2 separate regions of the Homo sapiens genome follow, and region 1 is linked to region 2. Evidence: fine-mapped expression QTL. A gene starts in region 2. The other region holds a variant in brackets. All regions are shown on one strand. Distances are between the middles of the regions.

The links. PIP is the estimated chance that this variant, and not a neighbour inherited with it, causes the effect. A credible set is the group of variants that fine-mapping cannot tell apart.
Region 1: its variant is the best candidate, but not a certain one, in a credible set for the expression of TNRC6B in fibroblasts (GTEx, PIP 0.70).

Annotation. Positions count from the first base shown.
Region 1 is chr22:40,381,167-40,386,166 of GRCh38, reverse strand. The region is part of intron 1 of SGSM3 (small G protein signaling modulator 3); the gene reads right to left. It also overlaps a transcript of ADSL not described here. Among named protein-coding and RNA genes, the nearest start is that of SGSM3, 13 kb to the right of the region's middle. The variant A/G (reference allele first, on the strand shown) is at 2,974.
Region 2 is chr22:40,175,068-40,180,599 of GRCh38, reverse strand. It overlaps TNRC6B (trinucleotide repeat containing adaptor 6B), which reads right to left and starts at 2,675. Exons shown (of 23, transcript NM_001162501.2): 1 at 2,460-2,675. The coding sequence starts at 2,464. RefSeq lists an enhancer at 2,787-2,836.

The DNA of each region.
Region 1 (5,000 bases), 210 kb before region 2:
GGCTCACATTTGTGATCCCAGCACTCTGGGAGGCCAAGGCAGATGGATTGCTTGAGTGCAGGAGTTCAAGACCAGCCTGGGCAACATGGCAAAACCCTGTCTCTACTAAAAATAGAAAAACAAAAAAAACAAAAAAAAAAACAAAAAATTAGCCGGGCATGGTGGCGTGCGCCTGTAGTCCCAGCTACCTGGGAAGTTGAGATAGGAGAATCGCCTGGGCCCGGGAGGTCGACGCTGCAGTGGGCTGAGGTTGCACCACTGCACTCCAGCCTGGGCAACCAGAGTGAGACCCGGTCTTCAAGAAAAAAAAAAGTTGTTCCTCTGCTCTTTCTGCTCATGTTCCTCCTGGACAAAGTTAGGGAACAAGCCACATGCTATTTATCTTCACGGTTGCTCAGCAACCTTCATTCATCTCTAGTTGACTTTTCATCATATTTCCTTCAGCGATACTTTCAAATCATTCTCATAATTCTTCTGAAACCCAACTACTCTCTGCTGCCACTCACCCCCAGCTGAGGGACTGTACTCCAGCTTTAACGAAGCTCAGCTTATTAGACTTAAGCTTCCTCAACTTCCTTATTCTCCGTGTCAAAACGGCTTTTCACCTGTTTGCTCTTTCTGCCCGCCCTCTCAGAAGAGAAAGTGGTTTTCTTCCTTCCTACGTTAAATTCTCCACCCACGAGAACCTTTCAACCCATTTCCTTTATACTCTTTTCCTTTGTGCATCTTCAGTCTTTTCTTCTCCAATGGCTTCGTGTCCACTGCAAATACTTAGATCTCCTGAACCCTGAATTAAACAAAACAAAACAAAGCAACTATCCCTGTACCCACTCAAGCTGTTACCTTTCTAGCTCTTATCCCTCTGCCTCACTGCCATACTTTTTAAAAGCGCCCATGCTTCATCAATCAACTCACTCCTTAAGCTTTTCACCCTAGCTTCTGTCACCACCTAAACTGGTTTCTAAGGTCTCCAGTGATTTCCTAGTCATTATTTGGAATCCAGTTCCTATGGCTTCATTTCCTGAAACTCCCTGAAGCATCAGACTCTGCTGACTTACTTTGGTTTCTTGAACTGTTCAATGACTCTGAGGGCACAGACCATATTGTTTTTTCTTCTCTATTTAACTGCTTCTTTACTGCCTCTTCTTTCTCCAGACCCCCAAAAAAGACATTCCCCACATCAGTCTTCTTTCTTTTAGTCCATTCCTAATGGATTCCAAATGGGGAGTCCATCCCTATTCTGAATGGGGATTTAGCTATTACTGTCATATAAATTACAAATCTCTATCTCTAGCCATGACAACATAGATTATTTCCAACTTATTGTTGGATAGCTTCATTTGACTATATACCACAACACATTAAAATATGTATTTCTTTTTTTTTGAGGTGGAGTCTTGCTCTGTCGCCCAGGCTGGAGTGCAATGGCGCTATCTCAGCTTACTGCAAACTCCGCCTCCCAGATCCATGCCCATTCTCCCGCCTTAGCCTCCTGAGTAGCTGGGACTACAGGCGCCCGCCACCATGCCCAGCTAATTTTTTGTATTTTTAGTAGAGACAGGGTTTCACCGTGTTAGCCAGGATGGTCTCGATCTCCTGACCTCGTGATCCGCCCACCTTGGCCTTCCAAAGTGCTGGGATTACAGGCGTGAGCCACCGCACCTGGCCAATATGTATTTCTTTTTAATTTTTTTTTAATTTTTGTTTATTTATTGGAGATGGGGGTCTCCCTATGTTATCCAGACTGGAATACAGCTGCACACCACTGTGCCTGGCTTAAAATCTGTGTTTCCTGAATAAATCTATTTTTATTCTATCTCAGATGATTCTTTTTAATATTCCTGTTTCTTCTCCCAAGACATTCAGATCCTAAGGTTTAGGGTAATTTTTGGCTCCTTTTTTTTTGTCGTTGTTGTTGTTGTTAGAGACAGGGTTTTGTTCTGTTGCCCAAATTGAGTGCAGTGGTGGGATCATGACTCACTGCAGCCTTGACTTCCCAGGCTCAAGCAATCATCTCTCCTCAGCCTCCTGAGTAGCTAGGACTACGGGCGCATGCCATCATGACTTGCTAATTTTTATTTTTAGAGACAAGGTCCTACTATCTTGCCCAGGAAGGTCTTGAACTCCTGCACTCAAGCAATCCTCCCACTTTGGCCTCCCAAAGTGTTAGGATTACAGGCATGAGCCATGATGCCTGGCCTTGGCTCCTGCTTTTACTCTCATATCAAATCAGTTGCAAGTCTACTGATTTTACCTCTAAAATACCTCTAGCATCTCCATCTCCATTTCCACTGCCTTAATCCAGACCCTCCCTGCCACTTTTCTGGGCCACTGTCAAAATCTCCTAAAGATTTCTGTGTCTCCAGATTATCATTCCGTTTATGTTAAACAAAGAGTAGGTTAATATCCCCTGAAGCACAGCTCTGATTCCATAGACCCCAATCTCTTTTTGAGTCAGCTCTTATTTTCCCTTCATGTACCCTAAGCTTTAGCCAACTGGGCCCCTCACTACTGTCTCAACATGCCTCTGTGCCTTTATTTATATTGTGTCCTCTGCTAAGAAGGCCACCTTCCATTTCCAAATATCCAGATTCCATCCCTCTTTCAGTGCTTAGCTCTGAAACACCACTTCTGTGAAGCTTTCCTTAGTACTTCCTCTCAACATTTACTTGTTCCTACTGACTTTTTTTTTTTTTTTTTGAGACAGAGTCTCGCTCTGTCGCCAAGGGTGGAGTGCAGTGGCGTGATCTCGGCTCACTGCGAGCTCCACCTCCCAGGTTCACGCCATTCTCCTGCCTTAGCCTCCCGAGTAGCTGGGAATACAGGCACCTGCCACCACGCCGGGCTAATTTTTTATATTTTTAGTAGAGATGGGGTTTCACCGTGTTGGCCAGGATGGTCTTGATCTCCTGACCTCGTGATCTGCCCGCCTCGGCCTCCCAAAGTGCTGGGATTACAGGTGTGAGCCACTGC[A/G]CCCGGCCGTTCCTACTGACTTCTATCTCACTTTACTAGTGTAGGTGCCTTATCTATAAACTGAAAGCTCTTCAAGGGCTGAATCCTCATTAGCACCTACTACAGTACTTAGGGATTTAATAAATGTTTGAAGTAGTAATCGCCTGTTTCATGAGATATTTAATTACCTGTTTTATGACCTACACAAATAAACCTTCCATAGTATTTCAGGACTTTCTGAAGAAATCTACCTTCACCTTTATACAGTGTTACTGTGGAAGCAAGAAGGCCTGGGCCTGACAACTTGTTCTGCCACTTGGCTGTGTGGCCAATTCATCTTCCCTAACCTCAGCTTCCCTATCAGTAAAATTAGGATAATAGGTACCTGCAGAATAAGTGAAAAAGTTCTTAAAACCCCTATCACATGCTTGGCATGGAGATCCTATTTTCCAAAAATGGGCTAACACAATATAACGTATCTCACACATGCTCTTCTTCAAATGTGACGAAACTTCTCCCATTGAATGGTGGGGTCTACGTCCCATCCACTCCCCGTGAACCCAGGCAAACCTCTGTGACTCCCTTAACCAAGAGAATATGGTGATATTGTGTAGCTTCTGAGGTTATGTCATAAAAATGTCATGCATTTTCACCTTGTTCCCTTGGGAGGTTAGCTCTTAGAACACACCTGCCATGCTGTGAGGTAGGTAAGGTAACATGGAGAGGTCACATATAGGTGCTCCGGCCAACAGTCCCAGGTGGGACCCAGCTGACAGCCACCATCAACCCCAAGACATCTAAGGAAACTTTAGACATGACTCCAGTCCCACCTAGCTGCAACTGCTTGAGATACCCCAGGAAAAACTACCTACCAACAACCAATCCCCCAGCAAGAGATAGTAATAAAATGATTATTGTTGCTTTAAGCTGCTAAATTCTGGAGTGATCAGTAAACAGCAATAGATAAATGGAAGAACTGGTGCTATGTTGTAGCTGTTAACATAATGCCATTTTAAATTTCAGTCTCCTCTCAACTCTTACTTTTTCAGATTGATGAGTCCTAAACTTATCCTGACCTCACATGGCAGGCACCACTCTTATTCTCTCATTTCACATCATGAGTGCTTACTCTGTGTCACACCCTAGGCTAGATCCTAGACAGGACAGTGAACAAAACAAAATCCTGTCTCTGTGGAGCTTTTATTCTGATCTGATAGAAAGACAAATCTGTAATATAAAATAAGAATTATTATTTGAGACAGCGTCTGACTTTGTCTGCCAGGCTGGAGTGCAGTGGCGCGAATCTTGGCTCACTGCAACTTCTGCCTCCTGGGCTCAAACCATCCTTCCACCCCAGCCTCCTGAGTAGCTGGGACTAAGGCATATACCACCATGCCTGGCTAGTTTTTTGTATATATTTTTGGTAAAGACAGGGTTTTGCCATGTTGCTCAGGCCAGTCTTGAACTCTTGGCCTCAAGGAATCCTCCCACCTTGGCCTCCCAAAGTGCTGGTATTACTGGTGTGAACCACTACGCCCGGCCCCAAGAATTATTAACTTACAACAAATTGCACAATAGTTTACATACATGTTGGGGAGTAATAAAGGGCTCTCATGCTTATTTATCATTTGTTCTTTTCCAGAAACTAAAGGACTCCAGTTATTTAGCTTCTAGATTTACCTTTTAAATTTGGAGTAATAATATAATACTTCAGTTTGTATTTCCAGTTCCTAAATGCACTATCTTGCATCGTTAAAATGCCTTGTAGCCGGGCATGGTGGCTCATTCCTCTTATCCCAGCACTTTGGAAGGCCAAGGCAGAAGGATCACTTGAGCCCAAGAGTTTGAGACCAGCCTCGGCAACATAGTGAGGCTTCATCACTACAAAAAATTTAAAAAATTAGCTGAGTGTGGTGGTGCACACCTGTAGTCCCAGCTACTTGGGAGGCTCAGGTGGGAGGACTGCCTGAGCCCTGGAGGTGGAGGTTGCAATGAGCCAAAATCATACCACTTCACTCCAACCTGGGCAACAGAATGAGGCCCTGTCT
Region 2 (5,532 bases):
CTCTGCAGGATCTGAGATCCAAAATGGCAGTCGAGCTATCAACTCACCAGAGCCATAATGCTTCCCATACGTGAAGCCAGGTCTTATTTATCTCACCTTTTAATTATCCAGGGGAAAAGAATATTTATAAAAAACATTTCAAAGAATCAAATGGCATTCATTGTATCATTCTCTGTTCTGCCTAAGACAGCAGGTACCCTGCTCTGGTTCCTCCTCTCTGCAAACTGAATTAACCTGCCATTCATATGTTTACACAGCCACAAAAACAAGATAATGGCAAAACATGGAAAGCCTAGGTTTTATCTCCTCTTCAGTAAGACCAACTTTAGGAAATAGGTGTAAAATGAATCATATAACAAGCAAAGCCCCAAAAAAGTGCTTTCATTTTCAGAAAAACAGCAACAAAAATCAGAGCTGATTTTCCTTTAGGTCTACCACAATGCAACATTCTCTATCACTAAGGTAATTTCTCTATCTTTTCCCTTTAAATTCAAGCCGTAAAAAAATTTAGAGACAACTTTGTTCCAGACTACCTCTTTAATGTAATGTTTCCAATCCTTCTTACACAAAAGCTGAATTTATATCATCAAAAAATTTACAGTGAATCTAAACAGTCACTTCTGTATTTATTACCATTACTAACATAACAACATTAATTTTTTAAAATAATAAAATCCTTGCTTGTTAGAGACAGAGGGCTTTAATTATCTTATGTATTCAAATGGAAAGTCTTTTTGTTAAATTAGCGTGAAAGTCCCTTCATCTACACACAATTGGCCCAAAGAAACAGGCCATTTTCAGCACAAGAGGCCAATCCATTTTAAGAGTGAATAAAGCTTTTGAAAGCACCACACACCCTCTTCCAGACTGTCAAATTTTCAAAATGGTCCAGCATTTTTTCCACTTTATCTTTTTTAACACTTTCAGGCCCAGTAAGCATCTCATAATTAGATTAATTAAAAAGGAAACAACAAAAAACACTGCTCCCTTCTGATCAAAATTATTCCATTTATGCTTAATTAGCTTTAATCCACGTCTACATATTTAATGATGGGGATATGACAATTCAACCCATTTGCATATTTTAAATGCCTTTTCTAAACTATACTTTGTAACAGATTTAGAAGAACAGTCTCTTTCTCATGCCAATATGCCACAGCATAAATCAGGAGGATACAAATTAGGAAAAAAAGAGAAAAGAAAACAAGGCCTCTCAGAGCCAGGGATGTGCTCAGGGGGGTGGAGTAATTTACCCAGGGGTGGGGGCAATTTACCCGCCACATCACAAACTACAATCCTTTCAGCCCACCAGACCGAGAAGCATTACATCACACTCTCACAATGATAGGGGGAGGAGGCTCTGAGAAAGCAAGTTTTCAGCTTTCTTTCCTCCCTGCTCTCAGGCTTCCAGAATCCTGCATTAGGAGTAATGGAATTTAACTTCAGGCACTGCACAGCTTCAGGGGTTACTAACAATCACATAGACTGCTACTTATACATGTGACCCTAAATGACCACTTCGCAGTGGATACATGGCCGAAACAGGCAACCACACACTCACACGATGAATTTATGCTGAAAAACTCAGTTTTGCATCTGTGTAAAATTAAACAAAAATTTTATTTCGTGAGGAATGAAGAAGGCTAATACACAGGGAGAACTGATAAAGAAATAATTTCTAATCGCGGTGAATAGCTGTTCATATCTTTAAAACACCATGTTTACAACATAGTCCTACCCTTTGGTTGAATCCAGGATCAAAATAAAAGCGCATCTGGCTGCACATTTGAGAACACACACAGAGACCCAGTGCAAATGAGCGCGCGCAGAAAGGAGAGGGGTGAGCCACATATTGCTTGGGAGGTTTTCAAGCAGGGGAATCTACAAACCCCAAACCTCCTGGTGTTCACCCGCCCCCAACCTGATGTTTAAAATGTATTAGGTCTTACTTTAGGTTTTACATCTCTCTAGGAAGGAGGGCCCAGTTTAAAAAATAAAAAGATAGAAAAAGGCTTTCCCGTTCTAGGGCTTGCCCTCCCAGATCCTTTGTCGGCCTTAGCAGCCGAAAGAATGCAAACCCATTTATATTTATGCAAATTTTTGCAGCAGATTTAAGGGGGGAGGGGGAGGTCTGTGTTTTTTAAAAACCTCTTTCTAAATAGCAAATTTCCAATTACTCGCAGCTTCATTTATTGCAAGATAGAAACGATGATGAAAATCTGCATATACATTAAAAGTGCAATTAAATCACTTCAAAATCTAAATATTTTACCACGTCTTTTCCATTTCTAAAATGCCGAACCAAAGTACATCACGGGTCTGATTTACACAGATCCACGAAATGTCTGAAGCCAGTCTCCATGCTAGACAAATGTCGATTTGCAACACCACCAGTGAAAACGGTTAGACAAGATCCATATAAATCAATTGGTTAAAAAAAATTGAAAATATTTACCAACCTCATAAAGTGCAGCAGTGCTTAAATCCAGCAAATTGAGGCATACAAGGTAGAAATGGAAATGAAAAAAGGTCCAAAAAATGAATTCTTTTTGTCTATCTGTTTTTTTGTATTTTAAATATTCAGAAACCAGCAGAGACTCTGTCGGCCATTTTGGCTTGAACTAACTCTCTCTCACACACTCTCCCTCTTGCTCTCTCTCTCCCTCTCTGTCTCTAAAGGAAGCAGCTTTTTGTGACCTTCAAATAGAGGCAGATCATGTGACTTCGGGTAGGTTTGTCAATCAGGAAAGGGGAGGGAGCTGGAGCTGAGACTGCCTTAAAGGGGAAGCAGCCCTTTTCCACTCACTTTCATTTGTGAAATGCTGTTATCTCATACTCTCCGCCTACAGACACTGCATGTGAAAGTGGCAACAGCATAAGGGTAACAGATGAACAAAACAGAAAAACCTTTATTGGTTTATAGAAATATGCTCAGTTGCTAACGATTCTTACAGCTCCTGGATCTTCTCCTGGCTCGCTTGCTAGTTATTCTCTAGATGTTTGGGCAAGCACAGGCTGGCAAACTGCTCTGTAAAAGGGGCTGAAACACAGCTCTACCAAACAAGAGGCTTTAGCTTTGAAAGAATGAGGTGAAATACAGGGCACGACTGATCTCTAAGAAACTCCTAAAATGTATAGAAAAAGACTGAAAGAAACGCACAAAAGTATAAACTGAACTGCAATTCAGAAAGGTTAAGTGACTTATCCCAAATCACACAGCTGAACAGCTGCAGAAGAGGGACTGGTTTCCCAATTCTGAACTCTACACTTATTGTTTTGCCTGTATGTGTGTTCAGTACCTCCTCCCCCAAACCCAAATAAAAACTATGCTTCAGCACTGCAAACGGAGTTTCTCTGGGCTAGGGCAGGTCTGAGTCATCTTTAATCCCCTCCCCCACCGCAGGAGGTAGCTCTGCAGCTGAGGGAGCCTAGGCACTAAATTAAAACCTACCTGGTTTCCACCACTCCTAATCCCTTCTCCTTCGCATATACATCTCCACTCCTACCCACTTAAGAAACCCAAGCTCGGTTTGCATCTCCAGCCCCCGCGGCTCACAGGCCGTGTAACTTCACTGCTAACAGCAAGTAAGTAAGTCCCTTACCCATCCTCCCACCCTGCCTGGCCTCCGTTTTCTCATTGGTAGCCGGCGGAGATTGGGCTTCCCTAGATGGTATCTTTGGTTTCTTTCACCTCTGAAACTCTGCACTTGGCTTCTTTGAGTAGTTCTGTTCATCTTTTCCTGGCCATCTCAAAAGTTCGCCTCCACCCTGGGAAGGCTTCTTGACCCTCGCAGTCCAGACCAGGCCCTCCTGTTAACACTCCCATAATATCCTTTACTACTTCTTCAGAGCAATGGTCATAATTGCAATTTATGAAAGAATGTGCTTAACATTAGTCTTCCCCAGGAGACTGTAAACTGTATAAGGAAAAACACCACGTCTTCACTGCTCTGTGAGGCTCCACACCAAACACCACATAGGAGGTAAATAAATGAATAAATCAATGACTTGGACCCTATTCAGAAGGGCTGGGCTGAGTAGGAGGAAATCTGCCACCTGAATATAAAAAATGTAGGGGAATGAGGGTCACATAGTTCCCAGAAACTCGCATTCATCTATGTTTTAAGGACGGCTTCAGGAAAGAAAGTAACTAAAATGGTAAAAAGCGCATGAGGCCGGGTGCGGTGGCTCATACCTGTAATCCCAGCACTTTGGGAGGCCGAGGCAGGCAGATCACCTGAGGTCGGGAGTTCGAGACCAGCCTGACCAGCATGGAGAAACCCCGTCTCTACTAAAAATACAAAATTAGCCAGCGTGGTGGCACATGCCTGTAATCCCAGCTACTAGGGAGGCTGAGCTTAGCAGGAGAATCGCTTGAACCCGGGAGGCGGAGGTTGTGGTGAGCCGAGATCGCGCCATTGCACTCCAGACTGGGCAGCAAGAGTGAAACTCCATCTCAAAAAAAAAAAAAAAAAAAGTGCATGAGAATGCCCTGTGACTATCGACTCCACCTATCTCTATAAGCCAGAAAAGGGAGGATTCCCTAGTGTGCTTCTCCCATAAACTAGGCTGCCATGCCAGCCAGCAGACAACTGATGGATTCTAGAAACCCGGCTTTCCTTGAAAAGGAACCTACGAATGCTTGTAAAATCCCACAACACTTGTTGTCATCCTGGCTTCTGGGTCTTTATACAGTCTCCCGCCTTTGCTCTTTCCACTCAGATATGACGACAGGAAAGGAGCTGTTTCATGGCAGGCAAAGGCCAATGCCTGGACAATCTGGTAGCCTGAATAGCTGTGGCTTAACAAGCTTCCACTGTCTTTGCCTAGCACTGAGTGAAATAGCCAGGCCCTGCACTGACAATTGAGATGCAGGAAAAAGCAGGAAACTACTAGAATGGAAATTCTGATTATTTAGTCTATTTTTATCCTTCCAATACCTTCCAGATGAGTTACTGAAAGCCTACTTGCTTGTAGCTGGCTCGATTTGTAAAAATGTGTGGAGACTGAACATCCACCTTGTTTTAATTTGTGATGGACATGCTTTCTTTATGAAACTGAACTTTGCTAAGTCTCCATTCCCCAGTGTAGAATATTATTGTATACAAATATTTATATGTGTTGCCTTGTAAGTGTTAAATAGCAAACTGCATGAAAAGTTTGGAAACAGAACAAACATATTTTAAATAAAATATTGGTTCTAATTTCAAATAATATGCTGAAAACATATATATATATATTTTGAGACAGAGTCTTGCTCTGTCACCCAGGCTGGAGTGCAGTGGCATGGTATCGGCTCACAGGAACCTCCACCTCCTGGGTTCAAGCGATTCTCCTGTCTCAGCCTCCTGAGTAGCTGGGATTACAGACACATGCCACCATGCCCAGATAATTTTTGTATTTTTAATAGAGACAGGGTTTCACCATGTTGGCCAGGCTGGTCTCGAACTCCTGACCTCGTGATCTGCCCACGTCAGCCTCCCAAAGTGCTGAGATTACAGGCATGAGGCACTGCGCCCGGCCACTGAATAT